Regions from separate parts of the Homo sapiens genome. Here all the other regions are linked to region 1. The links come from fine-mapping of genetic effects on gene expression. A gene starts in region 1. Each other region holds a variant in brackets. All regions are shown on one strand. Distances are from middle to middle. Region 1 holds the start of HRNR (hornerin). Region 2 overlaps CCDST (cervical cancer associated DHX9 suppressive transcript). Region 3 overlaps CCDST (cervical cancer associated DHX9 suppressive transcript).

Evidence for each region. PIP is the estimated chance that this variant, and not a neighbour inherited with it, causes the effect.
Region 2: its variant is the best candidate, but not a certain one, in a credible set for the expression of HRNR in coronary artery (GTEx, PIP 0.87).
Region 3: its variant is the best candidate, but not a certain one, in a credible set for the expression of HRNR in visceral fat (GTEx, PIP 0.71).

What each region holds. Positions count from the first base shown.
Region 1 is chr1:152,221,162-152,228,696 of GRCh38, reverse strand. It overlaps HRNR (hornerin), which reads left to right and starts at 4,504. Exons shown (of 3, transcript NM_001009931.3): 1 at 4,504-4,554; 2 at 5,419-5,581; 3 at 7,207-7,535. The coding sequence starts at 5,444. The region is part of intron 1 of CCDST (cervical cancer associated DHX9 suppressive transcript); the gene reads right to left.
Region 2 is chr1:152,191,431-152,198,965 of GRCh38, reverse strand. All of the region lies in intron 1 of CCDST (cervical cancer associated DHX9 suppressive transcript), which reads right to left. Among named protein-coding and RNA genes, the nearest start is that of CCDST, 5.9 kb to the right of the region's middle. RefSeq lists an enhancer at 2,157-2,657. The variant G/A (reference allele first, on the strand shown) is at 4,388.
Region 3 is chr1:152,333,505-152,341,039 of GRCh38, reverse strand. It overlaps CCDST (cervical cancer associated DHX9 suppressive transcript), which reads right to left. Exons shown (of 8, transcript NR_186765.1): 5 at 5,601-5,701; 6 at 2,951-3,051. Among named protein-coding and RNA genes, the nearest start is that of FLG, 12 kb to the right of the region's middle. The variant A/G (reference allele first, on the strand shown) is at 3,430.

The DNA of each region.
Region 1 (7,535 bases):
CTGATCAGTTTGCTACTCATTACATTCATACTACAATGCCTCACTCTCCCTTCTCTATCTGCTATCCCACCACTATCCCCTGCCACACACACATGCACGCACGCACGCACGCATGCACATCGAAAGGCAAATGTTCTGGATTTGATTTCCAACAATCAAGGTCCTTATATCTCAGCTTTTTTTTTTTTTTTTTTGGTACCATTTCTAACACTTGAAGTGTTTGTGAGAATCGCTTCCAGTCACTCTTCTCCATTTGTCCACTTTAATGGACCAGGTCTGCATGCTGAATGTTTCAGGTAGTAGGAACTAAGGGATAGAGACTATGAATACCAAGCCAGTAAGAGCATCAAACATCAAGATAAGAACACACAGCCTAAGTAACACAGTGAGACCTCATCTCTACAAAAAAATATAAAAATTAGACAGATGCAGTGGCATACACCTATAATCTCAGCTACTCGGGAAGCTAAAGTGGGAGGATCACTTGGGCCCTGGAGTTGGAAGCTGCAGTGAGCCATGGTTGCACCACTGCACTTTAGCCTGGGCAACAGTGAGACCCAAAAAAAAAAACTATATATATATTTTTTTCTCATATATATATATATATATATATATATATATATATATATATTAGAGAAAGATACTGATGGAATAAATAAAAGGATACATGTATGAATGAGCTCTGGATTCCCAGCATTTGAAGCATTTTGGAGTTCTCGGAAGAGAAAATGGAGGATATTAAGGGAGAAAGAAACAACTCAATAGGCAGACCAGTACTGAAGCAGAATATATTCCAGGGTGTGGGTCTGAAGCTGAAAGATATGTCACCATGCCTGTCTCATCCCCAGGGAATATATACTAAGCTGTAAAATTATATCGAATCCATTTTTTATTTTTTGAGATAACAGTAAAAAGGACTCAAAAGAGGATATAGAAGGAAGCACTATTTAACCAGTTTCATATTATAGCTAACTTCTTTTGATTCCATTTACCCAAAATCATGACCATCAACCTTCTCTTATATACATACCCCTATTTTTTACATAGTCTCCTCATTTATAGAGACTAGGCTACAAAGAACTATAGAAATTCCATGAAATAATTTCTGTAAGGAAAAAGGGCAGAAAAGGCAATGAAGAAAAGATCTGCTTTAGAATTTCCCTATGACCCAGCAGATGGTGCAATAGGCACATTACTCTGCCTTCCAGACAGGCAGAAAAAAATGAGTGCACACAGATGGTACTGGAACTTCACTGTTTATCCTTGCTAGTTTTGTTTGTTTGTTTTTCCTAGGTGAAACACTCCATTCCTGAAGAACTGTTTCCAAAACCCTTCCTTTACCAAGACATGAATATTTCCCTACTTGCTGACTATTCCTAGGAAAAAGCAGATTTGAATTTGAATTCTGTCTTCTCCACTTAACAGCTAAGTGACTTGAAACAAGTTACAGATTTCATCTGAGCCTCAGTTTTCTCATCTGCAAAATGGAAATATAATATCTAGATAACAGGGTTGTTGTAAGAATTAATGAAACAATGTACACCCACACACAAAGCACTGTGCTTGTCATAAAAAGGAATGTAATTTTCATTCTTCTGCCAACACACAGAGAAAGGCACTCAAAAACCTAGAACATGGCACATACCATAGAAAAGCTTTTCTCCTGAAACCTATCATCTCCAAGTGGAAAAACCACTAACCAAACCCATGATGGAGGAATCTTCATGTCCAACTCTGTTACTATGGAGCACACACTCTAAAAAAAACAAGAAACTGTTTTGAAAGTGACTTTTGTGATAATCTAGTCCTACTCTTAATAAGTAATTCTCAATGGGGAGAGAAGAGACCAAGACGCATATGTAATATGCTTCTTATTTTCATGATACAAACGAGGAAAAAAAGCCCAACAAAATTCTAGTTGGTGAGCATATCCAGAAAACAACGTAATGAAAGAATTAATTTTTTCTTTAATAGTAAAAAACTATTCATATGATACTTGACAATAAATTCAGTTACTTCACAAAGAGCTCACTGCATTTTCAGTCAATGCAAATATTAAATATTTCTCCCTTACATCAAATCAAAATTTATCTCCCTTTTACGAGCAGCCAAAGGTCCCTTGTTCTGTTCCCTTTCCCCACCACCCCACACATGCTGATATTTACAAATTCACCTTCACTCTTGTTCTCTCATGCAAGAGTTAGTGGTTCTGATGTCCCACACTTTTCAGCCCTTCTTTTCTCTCAGATCCTCCTCTCCCAGAGAATCTTCCTGAAAAGCAAATACAGAAGAGGAGCAAAGAGTGGTAAACTACAGCCTGCAGTTCATAGCTAGCTTGTCATCCATTTTTGTGTAGCCTACAGGATAAAAAGGTTTTCTACATTTGTAAGCGGTTGAAAAAATATATGATATGTGAAATTATATGACATTCAAAGATCAGTATTGATAAATAAGTTTTACTGAAACATAGCCATGCTCATTTGTTTACATATCATCTATGGCTGCTTTTATGCTACAATAGCAGAGTTGAGTAGTTGCAACAAAAACTATCTGTCCTGCAGAGATAATATTTTGTACCATCTGGCCCTTTACAAAAAAAAAAGTTTGCTGGCCCCTATTTCAGGAGAACACTAGCCCCAAGAGCACGTTCACCTGGAATAGTCTTCTCTCACAACCCTCTCCTCCCTTCGTGACAACAGCTGGTTCCTGCAGGAAATCAGTCTTCACTCAGCAAATTCCACCCCCCTTTACTCCCACAGTCTCAGCCACACCTTTAAAAAGTCATTGTTCTGATGAAGCATGAAAACCTGGCCCAATCAGATGTCCAGAGGAAACACGGCTACAGAATGGATACTGACTCTGCAGCCCTCTGGGCAATTCTTAAAAGAAAACACATAGCCTAACAATAGTTGAATTTGGAATCATGTAATTTATCACTTGCCAACAGTTGCTACCACACCTTCTCAAATCCTGATGACCATATTGCACAAGTTTTAAGTCCATGTAACTTCACACACCTTCAGTGAAATTTGTGTTATATGTTCACAATGGAAGAAATGCAGAGCGAGGGCCTCAGAAAAAAGCAGAAAGCCACTCATTGATTCTCAATGCTAAGATTCCGTTTATATTCAGGTAAAATCATGTCCTCTGAGGCAAAGATGGCAAGAGAGAGGGCAGACCCTAGTCCTCCTGTGAAAAGATGGAAGTTGGCCAATGCAGAGGACTATAGTCTTGATCCTTGCTTCTCTTTCAAATGAATTCAAACTGACATTTATTGGAGACCGTTATGTGACAAGCAGTATACTAGGTCTCCAAATGACATAAGGATAAATAATGTCCATTCCTTATTCTCAAGGAGCTCATAGCCTAGAAATGAAATAAGCCCATAGACAAATGTGTGTGTCTGTGTGTGAATGTGTGTGTTTGTGAAAGGCAAGGATATACAACAAATAACTAACAGTAGTTATTTTTGGCTAGTGGCTTTAAAGGTATTTTGATTTTATCTTATTTGCTTATCAATATTTTCTAATTTTTATATTAAACAATAATTGTATAGTAAAACAATTTTTAAAGATTACAATATAGTATGATTGATACAACAATAAATATGAATAAGGTACACAATTACAACTCCCTCTTGAGTAATTCAGGAAAGATTTTCTATGGGAAGCCTAAATTGGATTTTGAAGAATAATTAGTTCACTAGGCAGACAATGAGGAAAGACATTCTAAGAAAAAATATGAAATAACATATCCCATGGTATATTGAGGAAGTTTGAAATATTACTAGTTAATTACTGTTGGAGTACAAAGAGAAATATGGAGGGGAGAAATGGAGCTGGAAAAAAGCCACAGCCCAGATCATGAGGAACCATGGATACCATGCTAACAAGCACGCATTTCTTCCTAAGGTTATATGGTGTTTGAAATGAAAGCTATGGTGATGAATGGCCAATAAGGGGTCTGGTAAATTGAGGTACTTAATGAGTTAAAGGATGGCCTGGAGCCATTATCCAATTCAAAAGGTAATAACAATACCAAAGATGACACTTTGGCTGGAATACCATTTAAGAACATTTAGCTTAGAATGGGAGAGTTTGACTAGATGATCTTTACAGTCCTTTTAATCATCAATTTCCATGATTTTTTGACATTTGGGCCATGATGTCCCTGCACACACTCCATTCAACTTCTATTAAAATCCACACAATTTGTTGTCAATATATTGTGCTAGATAGTTTGATGAATACAAAAACAGGCCTTTCTGCAGTGTCCTGACCCTTTGGCAGGTGGGGCTGAGAGTAGCCCAGATTTGGGAACTGCTAATGCAATCTTAGGTGAACCTGTAAGGAAGTCAGGAAGAAGGTAAACACCTGGGAGGTGGAGATAGAGGTGGAGATGGGCTTGTTTAGGAGTAAATTAGGACATCTCAAAATTAGCAACTCCTCCCTAAGAGGGACCATTATTCCCTCTATAAAAAGGCCACTCTGCCCAACTCGCAGCACCCTGAAAGCTGTTTCTGTCTCTACCCTACTTGTTCCTCTGGTGAGCTAGGTAAGTGAGCAGTTCAACTCCGCTCAAGGGTACTTAGGGCTATAAATTATGAAAGTCCAGGATGTGCTCTAAGGCAAAGAGGCACTAGATACAAGGCTTCTTTTTAGTATACTCTGGGGAACTTTGGTATAAGTTTAAATTTACTGAAAAGAAAAATGAAACAAAGACTAGGACTATGTATATTATCTCCTTTCTTTGAGGTCGCTTCCCTTATAACATGGATATCATGGGGTTCTAATTATCCACAGGCAGGTTGCCTTCTTTACAACTGAGCTTTTCCTCTCTATTGTGTAATAAGGTCTGAGGGTCACTTCCTGCTTGGAGAATGAGAACAGAAGCTGGATCTAATAGCAGTTACCCTTAGCTTCATATCACCTAGGCTTGTTGGCTTTGCTCACATTGTCTATTTTCTCTGACCTAGAAGTCTTGAGAGTTCAGTTCAGCCATTGATGCTCCTTAGGTTGAGTAAGGCATGTCATGTAGATGATGGACCTATGCCCACAGTATGCTTCGAACCTAGAAAGAGGAAGCAGATGAAGTGGAACACTCAGGACTTCTACAGCTCCAGAACAAAGCTAATATTATCCCTGGTAATGGCAGGAAGCCAAAAACAGAAAGTCATTTTTCCTACATTCATTCAGGAATGGAAATAAGACCTATGGATTATATTCCTAATTTCATCACTCTCTTGCTACATGGCTTGAACAAGTCATTCAACTCTGAATTGGTTCTTGATTACAACAGAATGAATTTAATCATGACTGACTAATTCTGAACAATTATTATAAATAATTAGAACTATTTATGTGTTTAAACAAGAAATAAGAATAGTAAGGGGTTGGTCTCTCTTTTTCCTCCCTTTAGGTTACTCAAACTTGCAAAAAAAAAAATGCCTAAACTCCTACAAGGCGTCATCACTGTCATCGATGTTTTCTACCAATATGCCACCCAGCATGGGGAGTATGATACGTTGAACAAGGCAGAGCTGAAAGAACTTCTGGAAAATGAGTTTCATCAAATTCTGAAGGTAAGAACTCCACGCCAGGATGGAGTTATGCAGGAATTTTCTTCTTTATCCCTTTCCACCTTCTTGTCACATATGTCAAACATCCTAGAGGATTGTCCTTACTTGGTGAGAGAGAACAGGGTTTGGTAAAAGTTTGAGATAAGGTCAAAAGCAGATCCGTGATGGTTTCCATAGCATAACTAACGGAAGTGACCTTACTAAACAACAAACAAAACCCACAGGTTAAATAATGTCCTATCTAAGTGACTAATTCCTACAAACCCAGACAGTCCTCAGAAAAACTGTGAAGTAGATTTCTGAGTTCAGGAAATTGGCATTTACTCCTGAATCACAAAAGAATGTGTCCACCACCTTAAAACTGTCAGGTCTAGATTTGATAGCTTAGATATTTGGGACCTTATATCAGACTCCTGAGTTTCAATTCCTTAAATTTGGATTTCTGTGGATTTCAGATATGATATTCAGATATCAGATGTCAGATATTCAGTGTGTCAGCTATGAATCTCATAATCTTCCCCACTAACCTTTTTCCTTCATCTTTTTGCCCAAAGCAAAAACCTGGTGTCATTTTTTATTGTCTCTCTCTCAGCAGACACCACTACCTTCTAACCTCCATCTAACTCATCAATAATCTCTCAAAACAACCCATTTCTCTTCATCACTATTATTAGTCCTCTGGTTCAGGCCACCTACTACTTCTACTCTCAGCATTGGATGCAAATATAATCATTTCACTCCTCAGCTAAAAATCCTTCAATAGTTCCCAATTGCTCTTAAAATGAAGTACAAAGTTCCTTAACATAACTTAAAAGTCATAATCTAGTCCCTATTTGTCTCTCTATCCACATTTCTTGACTCTTCAAACTCTAAATCTAGCAATCCTGAATTTCCTTCAGTTCCTTGAATGCTCCATAACTTCTCTCACCTCTAGCCCTTTGTTCATATAATTCCCTCTGCCTAGAACAATCTTTTCCCCTTCTCTTTCTCTTCCTACTTCTTCATTTGGCTAATCCTAATCCATCCTTCAAAAGGCATCATTTCCTCTCATTAACCTTTCTAGGACCCCCAATGTTTCCTCTCTGATGTACTCTTGTAGAAACCTTACCACAATAAATTATAATTTTAAGTTTGTATATCTGGCCAACTAAACTTTAAATTCCATTTTTTTTCAGGAAGCAAACTTGTTCACTTCTTTATACTCTCATATGACATAATGGTAGGCAACTAGTAAAATAATAAATCTTTGTTCAGTGAGTAAATTAAGTAGCTAGTTAATTTAATTGGATAAATAAAGTTGATATAATTAATGTAGGTATAAAAACATATTACTTATAAATTAGCTAATCATTCATATTTGACCCATTCTTTACCAAAAATAATCAGCCCTCTTGTTTCCTTTCATCTTCCAGTTGCATCCTATTCTAGCTGTTTCCCACCACATTATTCATTCCATATTCCTTTTTCTCTTTCTGCTCAGGATACAGAAATGCAGCCTAAAGGACTGTGTGAATGAGTTCCATATAAATAACCCAAACATTTACATTTTCACATCTTTCCTTCAGTTCGTTAGCCAGATGTATTGTCCATACTAACAGAGCTACTCTTTGTACCTTTCTCTTATACAGAATCCAAACGATCCAGATACTGTGGATATCATCTTGCAAAGTCTGGATCGAGACCATAACAAGAAAGTGGATTTTACTGAGTATCTTCTGATGATATTCAAGCTGGTTCAGGCTCGTAATAAAATCATTGGCAAAGATTACTGCCAAGTTTCAGGGTCAAAGCTGAGAGATGACACTCACCAGCACCAAGAGGAACAAGAAGAAACTGAAAAAGAGGAGAACAAACGGCAAGAATCCTCTTTTAGTCATTCAAGTTGGAGTGCAGGAGAGAATGATTCCTATTCCAGAAACGTCAGAGGAAGTCTTAAACCTGGGACTGAATCCATATC
Region 2 (7,535 bases), 30 kb after region 1:
CACCTAGAAGAAAATAACTATTATATATACACATAGATTTTAAAAACATAATAACTTTGAGTGAAAATCAAGTTGCAAACTATTAATATGTACACTACATTACATAAATTTTAAAATGTAGTTACATATTTTATACATATATATACACATATATTTATACACATACATCACACATATTTACCAAATTAATTTTGGTGGTACTTCTGATAAGAAAAAAAAAAGATTAGAACTTGGGGGTGAGAAACACAGGAGACTTAAATTTACCTGCAATGTTTTATTCATTTTAATAAGACCTGAAGCAAATACAACAAAAAGTTTACTACTGTCAGCTCTAGATGGTAGCCATGCAATTACTCAAGATAAAAATAAAAAGACTATTTTTTAAGAACAGGCTTAGTGGGAACTTAAGAGTAGGAGAGCTAAAAGGCCATTCTGTGTGATCAATGAGTGACATTTCAGGGTTCACAGCTTCAGAGGTGGAGCAGTTATGGTTGATGACAAGGTCCAGGGGGTGGTCATTTGAATAGCTGGCTGAGGTAGAGTGGAGGTAGAGATCAATAGAGTGTAAGAAATGATGGATCCAGATGCATCACCAACATGACTGTTGAAGTTTTCCAGAATGATTATAATAGCTAGGGTGGAAAGAAATAGACAGTTGCCAAAGTCTTCACTGAAGATTATGTGGTTATAGGGGAAGGAGATCAGTCAAGGAAAAAGTAAGGATGGAAAGAGGGTGGAATGTATGTGCATCAATGAAGGAGTGTTTATTGAAAGAAGCCACAGTGGTGAGCAACAAAATCATGTTCAACGCACCTCTAGCCACAACACAACAGAGGGAGAATGTGTAACCTGTACTTGGAACTGCTGAAAAGTAGTATCATTCAGGAAAAGTCTAGTTTCGGTTAAGGTGAGGAGGTAGTTACTTCAAAAATCCTACTGAAACTCTAACTTTGTAATTCATTGACCCAAAGCTATGGGTTCAATCAGAAAGGAGCAGTAGATTTTACCAATAAGCCAAAAGAACAAGAAGGAGAAGGAGGATCATGAAGAGGAGGAGGGAGAAAGAAAAGAGGAAGGAAGGAAGGGAGAAAGAAAACAACAAATGAAAAAAAAAGAGAGAGAAAAAAGAAAGAGAGAGAAAGAAAGAACAAATGAATGAAAGACAAAAGAAAGAAAGAGAGACAGAGAGGAAGAAAGAACAAATGGAAGAAAGAAAAAGAAAGAAGAAAAGAGGAGAAAGGAAGAGGAGAAGGAGGAGGAGGAAGAAATAAAGGAAAGAAAGGAAAGAAAGAGAAAGAAAGAGGAGGAGGAGAAGGAGAAGAAAGAAAGGAGGAGGGGGGAGGAGAAGAAGATGAGGAGGAGGAGGAAGAGAAGAAAGGGAGAAGAAAGGAGGGGAAGGAGGAAGAGAAGAGGGAGAAAGGAGAGAGAAGGAAGGAGGAAGGGGGAAGGGGAAAAAGGAAGGGGGAAGGGAGAAAAAAGAAGAAGAAAGAAGAAGGAAGAAGAGGAAAGAAAGAAGAAAGAAGGAGAAGGAGGAGAAGGGGAAGGAGGAGGAGGGGGAGGAGGAAGAGGAGAAGAAGAAAGAAAGAGAGGAAAGAGAGAGGGGAAAGAAAGAAGGAAGGAAAGAAAGAAGGGAGGAAGGAAAGAAAAGGAAAGAAAGAAGGGAGGAAGGAAAGAAAAAGAAAGAAAGAAAGAAAAGCTCTCGCTCTCCCTCTCCCTCTCCCTCTCCCCACGGTCTCCCTCTCCCTCTCTTTCCACGGTCTCCCTCTGATGCCGAGCCGAAGCTGGACTGTACTGCTGCCATCTCGGCTCACTGCAACCTCCCTGCCTGATTCTCCTGCCTCAGCCTGCCGAGTGCCTGCGATTGCAGGCGCGTGCCGCCACGCCTGACTGGTTTTCATATTTTTTTGGTGGAGACGGGGTTTCGCTGTGCTGGCCGGGCTGGTCTCCAGCTCCTAACCGCGAGTGATCCAGCAGCCTCAGCCTCCTGAGGTGCCAGGATTGCAGACAGAGTCTCGTTCACTCAGTGCTCAATGTTGCCCAGGCTGGAGTGCAGTGGCGTGATCTCGGCTAGCTACAACCTCCACCTCCCAGCCGCCTGCCTTGGCCTCCCAAAGTGCCAAGACTGTAGCCTCAGCCTGACCACCACCCCGTCTGGGAAGTGAGCGTCTCTGCCTGGCTGCCCATCGTCTGGGATGTGAGGAGCCCCTCTGCCCGGCCGCCATCCCGTCTAGGAAGTGAGGAGCGTCTCTGCCCGGCCGCCCATCGTCTGAGATGTGGGGAGCGCCTCTGCCCTGCCGCGACCCCGTCTGGGAGGTGAGGAGTGTCTCTGCCCGGCCACCCCGTCTGAGAAGTGAGGAGACCCTCCGTCCAGCAGCCGCCCCACCTGAGAAGTGAGGAGCCCCTCCACCCGGCAGCCGCACCGTCTGAGAAGTGAGGAGCCCCTCCACCCGGCAGCCACCCCGTCTGGGAAGTGAGGAGCCCCTCCGCCCGGCAGCCACCCCATCTGGGAAGTGAGGAGTGTCTCCGCCCAGCAGCCACCCCGTCTGAGAAGTGAGGAGCCCCTCCGCCCGGCAGCCACCCCGTCTGAGAAGTGAGGAGCCCCTCCGCCCGGCAGCCGCCCCGTCTGAGAAGTGAGGAGCCCCTCCGCCCGGCAGCCGCCCCGTCTGAGAAGTGAGGAGCCCCTCCGCCCGGCAGCCGCCCCGTCTGGGAAGTGAGGAGCGTCTCCGCCTGGCAGCCACTCCGTCTGGGAGGGAGGTGGGGGTTCAGCCCCCGCCCCGCCAGCCGCCCCGTCCGGGAGGGAGGTGGGGGTTCAGCCCCCGCCCCGCCAGCCGCCCCGTCCGGGAGGGAGGTGGGGGTTCAGCCCCCGCCCGGCCAGCCACCCCATCCAAGAGGGAGGTGGGGGGCGCCTCTGCCCAGCTGCCCCTTCTGGGAAGTGAGGAGCCCCTCTGCCCGGCCACCACCCCGTCTGGGAGGTGTACCCAACAGCTCATTGAGAATGGGCCATGATGACGATGGCGGTTTTGTGGAATAGAAAAGTGGGAAAGGTGGGGAAAAGATAGAGAGATCAGATTGTTGCTGTGTCTGTGTAGAAAGAAGTGGACATGGGAGACTTCATTTTGTTCTGTACTGGGAGGGGTTCTTCTGCCTTGGGATGCTGTTGATCTGTGACCTTGCCCCCAGCCCTGTGCTTGCTGGGGCATGTGCGGTGTCCACTGAGGGTTAAATGGATTAAGGGCGGTGCAAGATGTGCTTTGTTAAACAGCTGCTTGAAGGCAGCATGCTCGTTAAGAGTCATCACCACTCCCTAATCTCAAGTACCCAGGGACACAAACACTGCGGAAGGCCGGCCGCAGGGTCCTCTGCCTAGGAAAACCAGAGACCTTTGTTCACTTGTTTATCTGCTGATCTTCCCTCCACTATTGTCCTATGACCCTGCCAAATCCCCCTCTGTGAGAAACACCCAAGAATGATCAATAAAAAAAAAAAGAAAGAAAGAAATCTAAAGATCAATTTGGGCAGAATTGACATCTTCCCAATATTAATCCAATAATATAGTATATCTCTCTATTAAGTATTCTTTAATTTCTCTCTTCAGGGTTTTGTAATTTTCATTATACAAATCTTGCACAGATTCAGTTAGATTTATTTCTATGTATTTGATGATTTTGGAAGCTATTGTAAATAGCATTTAAACTTTTAAACTTTCTGATTGTTCACTGTTAGTATGTAGAAGTATAATTGATTTTGGTATATTGAGTTTCTATCCTCAAATTATCCTAAACTCACTTATTATTTCTAGTAGCGTTTTAAATAGTTTTTTTATTTTGTATATAGGTGATTATAAATCTTCTAGCAAAGAGAGATTTATTTTTTCCTTTCCAAAAAAAGAAAAAAGAAAAATGGGCAAACACCTTGAACAGGCACTTCACAAAAAAGATATCCAAATGGCTAAGAAGCATGTGAAATGTAGTCCATTTCACTTGTCAATTGAGAACAGGAAATTAACACCACGATAGTATACCAATACACATCCATTGAAATGGCTAAAATAAAAAAGACAAACATCATGAATGTAGATCAACTGGAACATTCATACACTGCTCTTGGGAACATAAACTGTTACCATCAATTTGGAAAAGTGTTTGACTCTATCTTTTAAACCTGAACATATACAATTGTTATATTGTATGATTGCCAATTTCATTCCAAATTAAATATTCAAAAGAGGAAAAAAAAAAAAAGAAAAGAAAAGAAAAGAAGAAAGGGGGGGTGGGGAGGGGAGAGGGGGATGGGGAGGGGTGAGGAGGGGGGATGGGGGAGGGCAGGGCAAGGAAAGGAAAAGAAAGGGAAAAGAGAAGAGAAGAGAAAAGAAAAGAATGGCAGTGAT[G/A]ACTGGGGCCCTAATATATTGGACATGAAACTGCCAACTGCACCAAAGAGGAAGGAATGCTGAAGGACATTATCACAAAGCTAAGGGCCAATCAGTAAAATCTTGGAAAATCAAATTGGCTCAGAAAGAGTGAAATGACTTAAGGGAGTAGATAAAGAAATTTCAGAATATTTTAAATGAAGAGATGGTTTTGGTTCTGGAAACAGGTCTGGGAAAGTATCAAGGAATAAATGTAAAGAGGGAACCACATAAAAGGAAACTTGAGGTTTAGAGTCCAAAATGGACCCATATTGAAGGGAAAACCCAATATATTGAGACCTAAAACCTCTTAAAGATAGAATTTGAAAAGTGACCTCTCTTAAAGATAGATCAGAATGATGAAAAGGAAGACAAGCAAGAATCTAAGAAGGGAACAAGAATAATTGATAATTTCAGATGTCCTCTCATGCCATTTTAGGGCTAAGAGAAACTCAGGGGTCTGAATTTCTCCAACAAGCAAGGCCAAACATGTGAAACCAAGTTTTCCACTCCACAGCACTGAAGGGCCTCTCTACAGGGTTTGCAGTCATCTTGGTGACACTAAGAAAAGGAGACACGTGTCCTCTCAGCTCTGGGATTCCCATACGTACAGACAGGTTTGTGGTGTTCTTATTCACCACTCCTCACACTCAGTCTGGGGCAAGGGAAGAGCACAGGCCCAGCCCATACACTACAACCTACTCTACTTTTTCTCCAAACTCCTCTCCACTCTTGTTTAGATGGTCTTTTTTCTATTCTGGATAGGGGTGGAGTAGAAGGAAAAAAATGTTCCCAGTAGCGTCTTCTTTCAAACTTTAATGTCTCATACCTGCACCTTGCCTTTTGAATTTAGAAGAGAAAAATATTGATCTCTTTGTCTGCGGATCCCCCAGTTTGGACTAAGGGACCCTCAGAATAAATCTGTGCAAAACCCAGAGGGGGACTGGGAAAGACCTCGTTCATACATATCTGGCCATGGTTGTTTTTGTAGCTCTAAAATATTTCATTTGCATGTATTTACAAATTCAGCAAAATAAAATTACTTTAAAGTATATAATAAATGACATCAAATCCACCTTTTCTCTGTTGATGGGGGTGAGGCAGTAAAAATACCAAGTGCCTGAAATGGTGGGGCACAGGAACACAGGGATGAAAAACGTTTTATGGTTAAACAGTCTGATAAAACCACCAAACCCTTCTGCCCCACCTCAACAAGACACACTCTTGAAATGAAATGTCCCATTGTGTTTACAGAGAGGGAGAAACAGACAGTGAGGAAGGAGAGGATGGGAAAGTAGAGGAAGAAGGCTTTTTCTGCCTTAATAACAATGTTCAAAGGTTTGCCTGGCTTCACACTTGATTGTCTTCTCCCTCAAAAAAGCAAAAGCAAGGTAGCAACAGAGTTCTTTCAGTTTTCTGTGCAGATTCACATATAGATAACTAAGTAGTAATACTTCCTTACTTGTGTCAAAGAATTTGTGTGCACATTCCACTGGAAATAATTCCATCTGGACCTGGTAACTCCCTTTGGGGTGACTATATCTCCTGCAGGAACTCAGTCCTCACTCAAAAAATCCCAAATTTCCTTCAATCCCATACCCTCAATCACACCTTGCAAAGGTCATCCCTCAATGAAGTCTGGCCACCTGTTTCAGATCAGCAGCCCAAATGGCAATAGAGCCTATGTTGTTTCAATGGCCCACTAAATATTAACAGCTAATAATAGCTAATATAGCTAATAATAACATTTGATGAGCATTTACTATATGCTAGCACTGCTCTAAGAACTTCCCACATATTAATCCTCACAATAACTCTGTAAGTATTATTCTTACCCATATATTATAGATGAGAAAACTGAGAAACAGAGAAGTTAAGCAGCTTTCCCAAGGGTACACTGCTAGTAAGTGGCTGAGCCAGAATTTGAGCCCAGGCAGCCTAACTCCAGGGACCATGTTCTTAACCATTACATGATTCTTCCCCTTGGAAGAGGACAGAACAGATAATATGATGGTTACATTTAGATACACACAGTTTACAATTTGCCCATGGCCCTGGCTCCCAATAACTTCTCATTCCTTTAGCCTCACTGTTCATGTTTGATGTTTTCTGTCTTCATATTGAAAATGCAACACGTTACATTGTGTTAACTTGGCATAATGGAGTAAAAAACAAGGCTTCAGTGGGAATACAATCCTCATGTAAAGTTTAAGAATGGTCAAGACCTGTACTCATGTCTTCATCAAAATTGACTCCAAGTATCCAACTTAGCAGACCAAATGGATGGTGTTAGCACTAACAGAATTCAAGAATTCAGAAGGTAGAATAGATCAGGTTTAAAGAAATAAACTTAGCTCAGGGCATTCATTCATTCAACAAATATTTTTAAAGCATTGAATGTGTATCTGAAACTGTTGTACATTCTGGGCATTCAACAAGGAGGCAGAACAAGTCCTTGCCTCCTGGCAACATTCATTCTAGGGCACACTAGAAAAAACTGAAAAAGTAAATAAGTAAGGAACACAATGCTGTGAAAAAATAACCAAGGGAACCTCTTTCATATGGGGCATTCAGGGACAAAGCAAATTTGAGATGATCAAAGATAGGCAGGTAGATATACAGATCTTAATGACACATTGTCATTGTGCCTTCATGCCAGCTTCCCAAGAACCATAAAATATTTAAAAATAATTTATGATGTTGTAATGCAAACTTCTCAAGCTGATGCTCCAGGCTCTGCTCCAATCCAGCCCTGCCTATCTATCCTCTTCCCACCACCACTCCCAAACACATCTTCTCCATTCCACTTAGGCTAATCTCCTTACTGGCTCACAACATAACAAGTTCACCCCCAACCCTGTTCTCTCCCCTACACCTGTTAATTCTACCCATCCCTCAAGACCAGGCTCAAGTTCCACCTTCCTCATTCTTACCCACTCAGGCTTACCGAACACCCTTCTCCTTTAAACAACTAGTTCCCAGGCAATTAATTACGTAAAAATAGTCTTCTGTCCTTCGCGGCTGTTTCACATATGCCATAACCCAGGACTTTTAACACAAGGCACCACAATATCCTCCCAGCAAGTGTAGGCATGAAGGGAAAGGGGTGTGGCACATGTCCAGAGTTCCC
Region 3 (7,535 bases), 110 kb before region 1:
ATATATTACTGTAAATAAATAAAATTGTCATCAAAACTATTCTCCTATTAATTATATGCATGAAAATTACTGAACACATCATTATTAGTTCATACCATGCATTCATTCAACAAAAACATGCCGCAAATAAAAAACGTTTTAAAAATTGATTTTAATTATGAAATGATACAGAAATATATTCTTCCTTTGAAAAATTAGAATATTTGTAGATATATGCTACAGCCTCCTCTGACCTTCATCCCAAATCCAATAACTTCTTTTCTGTACCCAGGAATAATCACTGAGGAATAGGGCTTGATTCTTTCCAGAAAACTTAAAGATATTTTTATAGACATGTGTGTACACACAGAAAACACCTAACATTTAGTGTACATTTTTAAGTGGTATGTTTAAGTGAGAATGCAGATATCTCTTCAACACCAATTTTAATTCCTTTGGCTATACACTCAGAAGTGAAGTTGATGGCTCATATTGTAATTCCATTTTTTTTTAAAGACCCCCATACATTTTCCAAACTGACTCAGACAACTGGTCATCTTAACATGCTGTATTTCACAATTTATTCAGATTTTCTTTTATATCCTTTTGTAAGTTTTTTTCCTATAAAAGTATTTCACTTTTTCATTAGGTTTATTTGGGGGTTTATTTTTGTTGTTAATACAAATGGAATTTTTCTATCATATTTTTGAATTGGTGATTTCTATTGTATAGGAAGCTGTGAACGTATTCATTCTGATTGTGTATTTGACTATCTTGCTGCACTCTTATTATCTTTGAATGTTTGTCAATTAATTTTGGGGGGTTCATTTTGTCTGAAACTGATGAACAAATTATCTTTCTTTCAACATTGATTCCACATTTCTAAATTATTTATTGCGGTAAGATACACATAATATAAAATTTATCATTTTAATCATTCTTGGTGTACCATTAAGTAGCATTAGTACATACATATTGTTGTGTAACAGTCAAAACCTTCCATTTCCAGAAATTTTACATCTTCCCAAGCTGAAACTCTGTATCCATTCAACAATAATCCTCCATTCTCCCTTTCCATCAGCAGCCATCATTTTCTTTTCTGTTTCAATGAATTTGACTACTCTAGGTACCTTATCTAAGTGAAGTCATACAACATTTGTCCTTTTGTGTCTGGCTTCTTTTGCTTGGCATAATTTCTTCAAGACCCAACTGTGTTGTAGCATGTATTGGAATGCCATTCCTTTTTAAGGTTGGATAATATTTCATTGTATGTAAATACCACATTTTGTTTATCCATTAACAAAACGGACATTTAGGCTGTTTCCACCTTTTGGCTATTGTCGATAACACTGCTATGAACGTGGGTCAAAAAGTATCTGTCCAAATCCCTGCTTTCAATTGTTTTGGATAACTACCCAGAAGTGGAATTGCTACCTCATTTCTTATTGATTAGGACTATCTAAATATTAGTACTCATAGTAGGCATCCTTGTCTTCTTTCTGACTTCAATGACATTGTTCTAATGTTTCAGTATTTGAAGTAGAGTATAATGTTTGCTATAGATTTCTGTTAGATAGCCAATATCAGATTAAGAAAGTTCCCTTCTATTCCTAATTTGCTGAAAAGTTCTACTACAAATGAGTTTAAAATTTTATCAAATGTCTTGTTCAATCTACTGAAAGGATTATATGTTTTTTTCACTTATTTTTAAATGATATTAATTGATTTTCAAAAGTTAAACAGATCTTGGAATCTTTTGGTAAACTCTATTTGGGAAATAAATTTGGGACACTCCTGGAATTGATATGCTAATATTTTATTAGGATATTTGCATTCTGTGTTCATAAGTGAAATTAATCTATAGTTTTATGTTCTTGGGCTTTCACTATCTAATTTTTGTACCTGACAAAATTGGTTGGGAAATTTTCATTCTTTTCTGTGCACTGGAATAGTTCATGCAAAATGTGGATTTCTTAAAGGTTTGGTAGATCTAGCTAAAACTAGTGGGTGGGCCTCCTGACTTTGGAGTTTGAAACAGTCAGTCTTTCATGGTTGAAAATAGAAAGTCAGATATAGATTCCTTGGCAATTGACATTTTCTTACTAACTTATCCATTTTGTGTTGATTTCAACATTACTGGTACTTAGTTGTTTATAATATTCAATTTTTTCAGCTTTTTGAAGGGATAACTGACAATAATATTCTATTTTTAAATCATTAGTTTATCTGTAGTTATTTTTGTTACTTTTTACTGCTCTTTAACCCTTTGCAAAAGGTTGCAAAATATATTATGCCTTTAATTACCAAAACACTTTACCTTTAATTCTATTTTAATCTGCTGTTAACTGCATTAGTGTTTGCCTGCCATATCTTTTACATCCTTCTCTTTTAATCTTTACTTTGTCATTTGTTTTAGGTGTGTTTTTAATAAACAATATATAGTCAAATATGGGTTGTTTATTTATTTAATTGGAGTTTATCTGTTAATAGAAAAAATCAGCCAATCATTGCCTTTAAAAAAAATTTAAACAACCTATAGAAAAGGCAAAGTATGAAACAGGATGGCAGAAATACTATGTTAGTTAAATGAACATAATTAAAATAACATAATTTCAAAAATGTAAATAGCCTAAACTAATGAAATAACAGAGACATTTATAGTTGATAAAAACTACAAAAAAGATTCAACATGTTGTCTACAAAATACATGCTTAATAATTATATACATATTATATATAATTACATATATAATCATATATAATTAATTCAGATTGATAACAGGATGCAAAAACTATTAAAAATCACATAACCTATCTTTAAAATTTGTCACATTAATATACTAAAAAAATTAAAATAACATGTTCATCTCAATGCAGGAAATACATTTGACAAATCTCAATGCATATCAAAGATAAAAACTCATACTAGAAATAAATGGAAATTTATTAATATATCAAAAAATACAGTATACCTTATAATTAATGAAGAAATCTTAGAGGCATTCCCTTCAGAAACAAAATCAGGAGCAATATCATTATTAGTGTTTGCCATAGTGGGGTGCCCTGCCCTATGCTATAAGGAAAGAAAGAGAAATAAATACATTGGTAGAAAAAAAAAAAGAAAACAAATGACATTATTTGCAGGTAAGATAATATGACTCTCTAGCTAGAAAAAAGCACCTAATCAACAAAGTATTACAACTAATAAGATAATTCAGCAAGTTTATCAGAAACAATCAAGTTACAAAAATTAAAAGCACTTTTCTCTCCAACAATAACCAATTACAAAATGTATTTAAAAATAAGATATCATTCAGAACAGCAACAAAAAATGTTAAATAACTAGAAAATAATGACAACATATAATACTTCCATGGAGAAAATTTTTAAATCTAATAAATGACATAGAAGATTATCTGAATAAATGGAGTGACATTCCATATCTTGGGGG[A/G]GATGACTTAATATTATAAACATGTCAGTTCATATTAATCTATACATTCAACACAATCACAAATACTTCAAAATATTTGTGTTGAATTTCTTGAGAAGTTCAATAACCTCAAGTTTTTATGGAAGAATAAAGATCCACGAACAGGTAAGTCAACATTTCAAGAAAAAGGCAAAGAATGGGTACTTGCCCTTCCAAGTATTAAGACATACTACACAGTCAAGTAATAATAACAATGTGATATTATTGCAATGACAAAAAGATCAGTGAAACATGATAAGGAGCTTAGAAATTAAGTATGTTTATATGGGAACTTAATATATAGTAAAGTGGGTACCATATATCAATGGGAAAAGGGCAGATTAATAGAAGGAGTTGCAAACCTGGCTCATGCCATAGATAAAAACAAAATTGGATATTTACCTAAAGTCACATACAAAGATAGACTGCAAATGAAATAAATATCTGAATGTGAAGCTTAAAACAACAAAGTAAAGAGAAGAAAATATGGGAAAATACCTTAGTAATCTCAGCACAGGAAAGAACATTGTAGATAGAACTTTACAGGCACACATAATACAAAACTAGTGATGACTTTTATTACATCATAATTAAAGATTTCTGTTCAGTGAAAGACACCACGAACAAAGTTAACAGAGAGAAGACACATTGAAATTATTTGCAGTGTCTAAAAATAACAATGTACTAACGTCTAGAACATACAATGAACTTCTTAAAGTAAAAAAGAAAATTAACAGAAAAATGGACAAAGTATTTGAACAGGCAATGTATAGAATAGGGTAATCAAAATGGCTTACAAATATACATAAAGATGTTCAAACTCATGGATAAGGGAAATCAAAATCAAAATAACAGTGAAATGAGCTGGAAAAAGTTAGGAAACTAGATATTGCTAGGTGTTGGCTGGGATGTGGGTTTAGGAAATCTCATGTACTCCTGGTAAGAAAGTAAAGCTGTTCTGGAGAGTTATCTGACAGTATCTAGTCAATATCAAGTATACATATAGCCTACCACCCAGAAATTCTACTTCTGTGTTTATGACCCCCAAAAATGTCTCCCAGAGATCCATAATGGACATATGTAAGAGGATGTTCGTCGCAGCATTATTTTTAGTGCTGAGGAATTAATTAGAAGCAATTTGAGTGTTCATCACCAGGGAAGTGCAGAGGTATACTGAGTAGATGCAAAACAACAGCACAATTAGAAGCAATGGACTAGACTTACATACTGCAACATGGATACTAAATGAAAAAAAAAGGTAAAAAAAAGAATGAGATCTAAAAAAAATAGCACTTACATAAAAGTAAAACTCTATGAACATAAAAGTAACAATAGATACTTTACAAACACCTGTACAAGTTAAGCCATATACAGTAAACTCATTAGAATAATTTATCTGTTGAGGGAGGAGGAGAGGACTGGGAATAAAGAATGGGGATGAAAGTTAACCAACTCTTCCACAGAAGAGTCTGCATAGCTCAATAATTACAATGTGCCATGAAATAAGGAATATGATTAACTCACATCTCTATACCTAGGATTTAAAAAAAAAATTGATATCCTGAGTGCTGATGGTCTCAAGTCAGCAAAAACTCTGGGGCCAAAGTCTATGAATGGTTAATTTTGCAAGCTCACATAACTGTCTGCTACAATAGAATATCCTTGGTGAAAGCATAGGAGAGAATAAAAGGGCTGAGACCTAAGAACAAACAGATTCTGGATTTCTGACTTCAGAAGACAAAGGAAAAGAAAGACAAGGAAAATTGAATCATTTTCTAGAGGGGTGTTAACTTAAAAATTACACAATTTATAAATTTTGAAAGGAAAGTTATATTTCTCATAGAGGGTTACAGTTGCAAAGTTGACAGGCAAATTCTGACAAGCTGGGAAGCCTGGCCTCTGGCTGACGCCAGAAAGGCAGGTACTTCAAAAGAGGAGGGATTGGGATAGGAACTTTATGCTGAATGGGTTGACTAAACATATTCAATGGATTACAGAAGGAGCCATGAATATTCGTGGTCCTCCTAATGCACACATACTGAATAAATGTACATATTACATCTGACCAATGTTCACCTTGGGGTGGAGACTTAACATTTAAATATATTATAATAAGGCTTTATAAGGTCGTTTCAGGACACAAACGCACTCACGTATGCAGCCTTTGTAAACTGGCCAGAATCCGTCCACGGTCGGTGGTCTTCTTATCAGGAGAAAGTTATTGAAATAGCCTCTCGTCTAATCAAAGCTGTAGCTATAGTTTGTGAAACAGGGGGATGGAGTCAGTGTCTGGCAGTGAATGAGCTACAAATTGTTTTCATATTGCTTACCTGAAGGCCAGTGCTTGTTTAGCTGCTGAAGAAAAATAGAAACCTTATGGCATTTAGAACATAGTTTATTCTTTAAGTGCAGAAGTGTGTGACTTAACCCTTGACTGGCATGGTCTTAGCTCCTGTTTACAATTTGGTATCTTACTGCCACAAAGAGTCTGTTCTATCAGTCTTACATTCTCTATTTTCACATCAATGCTGGCCAGTTGTGTCTAAACACTGCAAAAGGGAGGGTATATAACAAGATATGTCTGACTTCCTGAGCCATCATGGCTGGGAACTCAGTTTTTAAGATTTATCTAGGGTCCATTTGGCCAAGATTGGGGTGGGGAGGGTCTGTTCAGTCAGTTGAGGGCTTTAAGATTTATTTTTAGTTTACAGGAGGAACCATGTTCAGACTACCAAATAGTTTCCAATGCTGAGCAGGGCTAGGGCCACAGACACACACTCCTGTTTCCATAGAAATTCCTCAGGCAGGCCTCATGTACTTAGCCAGGACCCTGCTCTTGCCCCCAAAGGAATTTATCCTTTTAAAAGTATAATATTCCTCTTATCTGACTGTTCTACTGCACAGTGGGGTAACCACAGTTAACAATATCATATACTATATTTCAAAATAGCTATTAATAGAAGAGAGAATTTTGAATATTCTCACCATAAAGAAATGACAAATGTTTGAAGTGATTGATATGCTAATTACCCTGATTTGATCATTACATAATGTAAACATGTATAGAAACATCACTTAAATATAAACATGCACAATTACTAGATGTCAGTTAAAAACAAAATAAAACTTAGAAAAGTATAATGTGATGATACTGGTTCAGGGATCTGATCTTTAATCCGAAGGAAAAGAGGAGACATGAAAGAACTGAGGGGAGGGCTTGTTATTCCTCTTCCTCCCCTTTCTCTATTACCACCCTTGCATTAACATGCCCCTGGTTATCTTGCTATGTTTTTTATATTTATTATGAATGCAGAACACAGCAAAAAGTAAATAGCAATTATATCAGTTCTAATTCTGCTTCAAGTAATAGAACAACTCAAAGCTTATTAAATTAAAGGGAGAATGTATTGGTTCACGTAATTGAAAAGTCTTGAAATGGGGCTAGCAGGCTGTACTCACTCCAAGGCTCAAAGTATATCATCAAGATTGGGTGAGTCTCTCAATCTCTCAGCTCTGCTTTTCCCTCTGTTGACTACAGTTTTGACATGTAGTCATGAGATGGCTGCAGCAGCTTGGCCTACATTCTTCCCTGTTCAAATCTCAAGGTGCAGGGGCCAAGGGGTTGGGGGGAGAGGTGGAGGAGGAATGCTATGTCTTTATTGGTAGTTCACACAATAGTCCTGAGATTCACTCTGCCTTAGACATCCCAGGTCACATGCTTACCCATCCCTGTCCACTAACATCCAAGCAACATCTTCACCCTCATAAGTCAAAGATAAACTCACCCCCTCACCCTGACCACAAGGAGTAAGAATGGGCAATGGTTGGATTCTTAAATGAAAATCAGGGACTGTTGCCAGAAAAAAAAAAAAGTGGAATGTATACAATGGAGGAAAACAATAAATGTACTAGAGCAATTTTTGCTACTTTTTTTGTAGTATTTGTATTCAACATTCAATATTCTCCTGAAGCTACTCTTTTCCTAAAACAGATGAAAACCTTCTCCCCGATCTTCTAGAGATGATCACACTGAACCCTAAAGGACATTTAAAAACCTCCATAATCACACAGAGAGGGACTCAATTAAA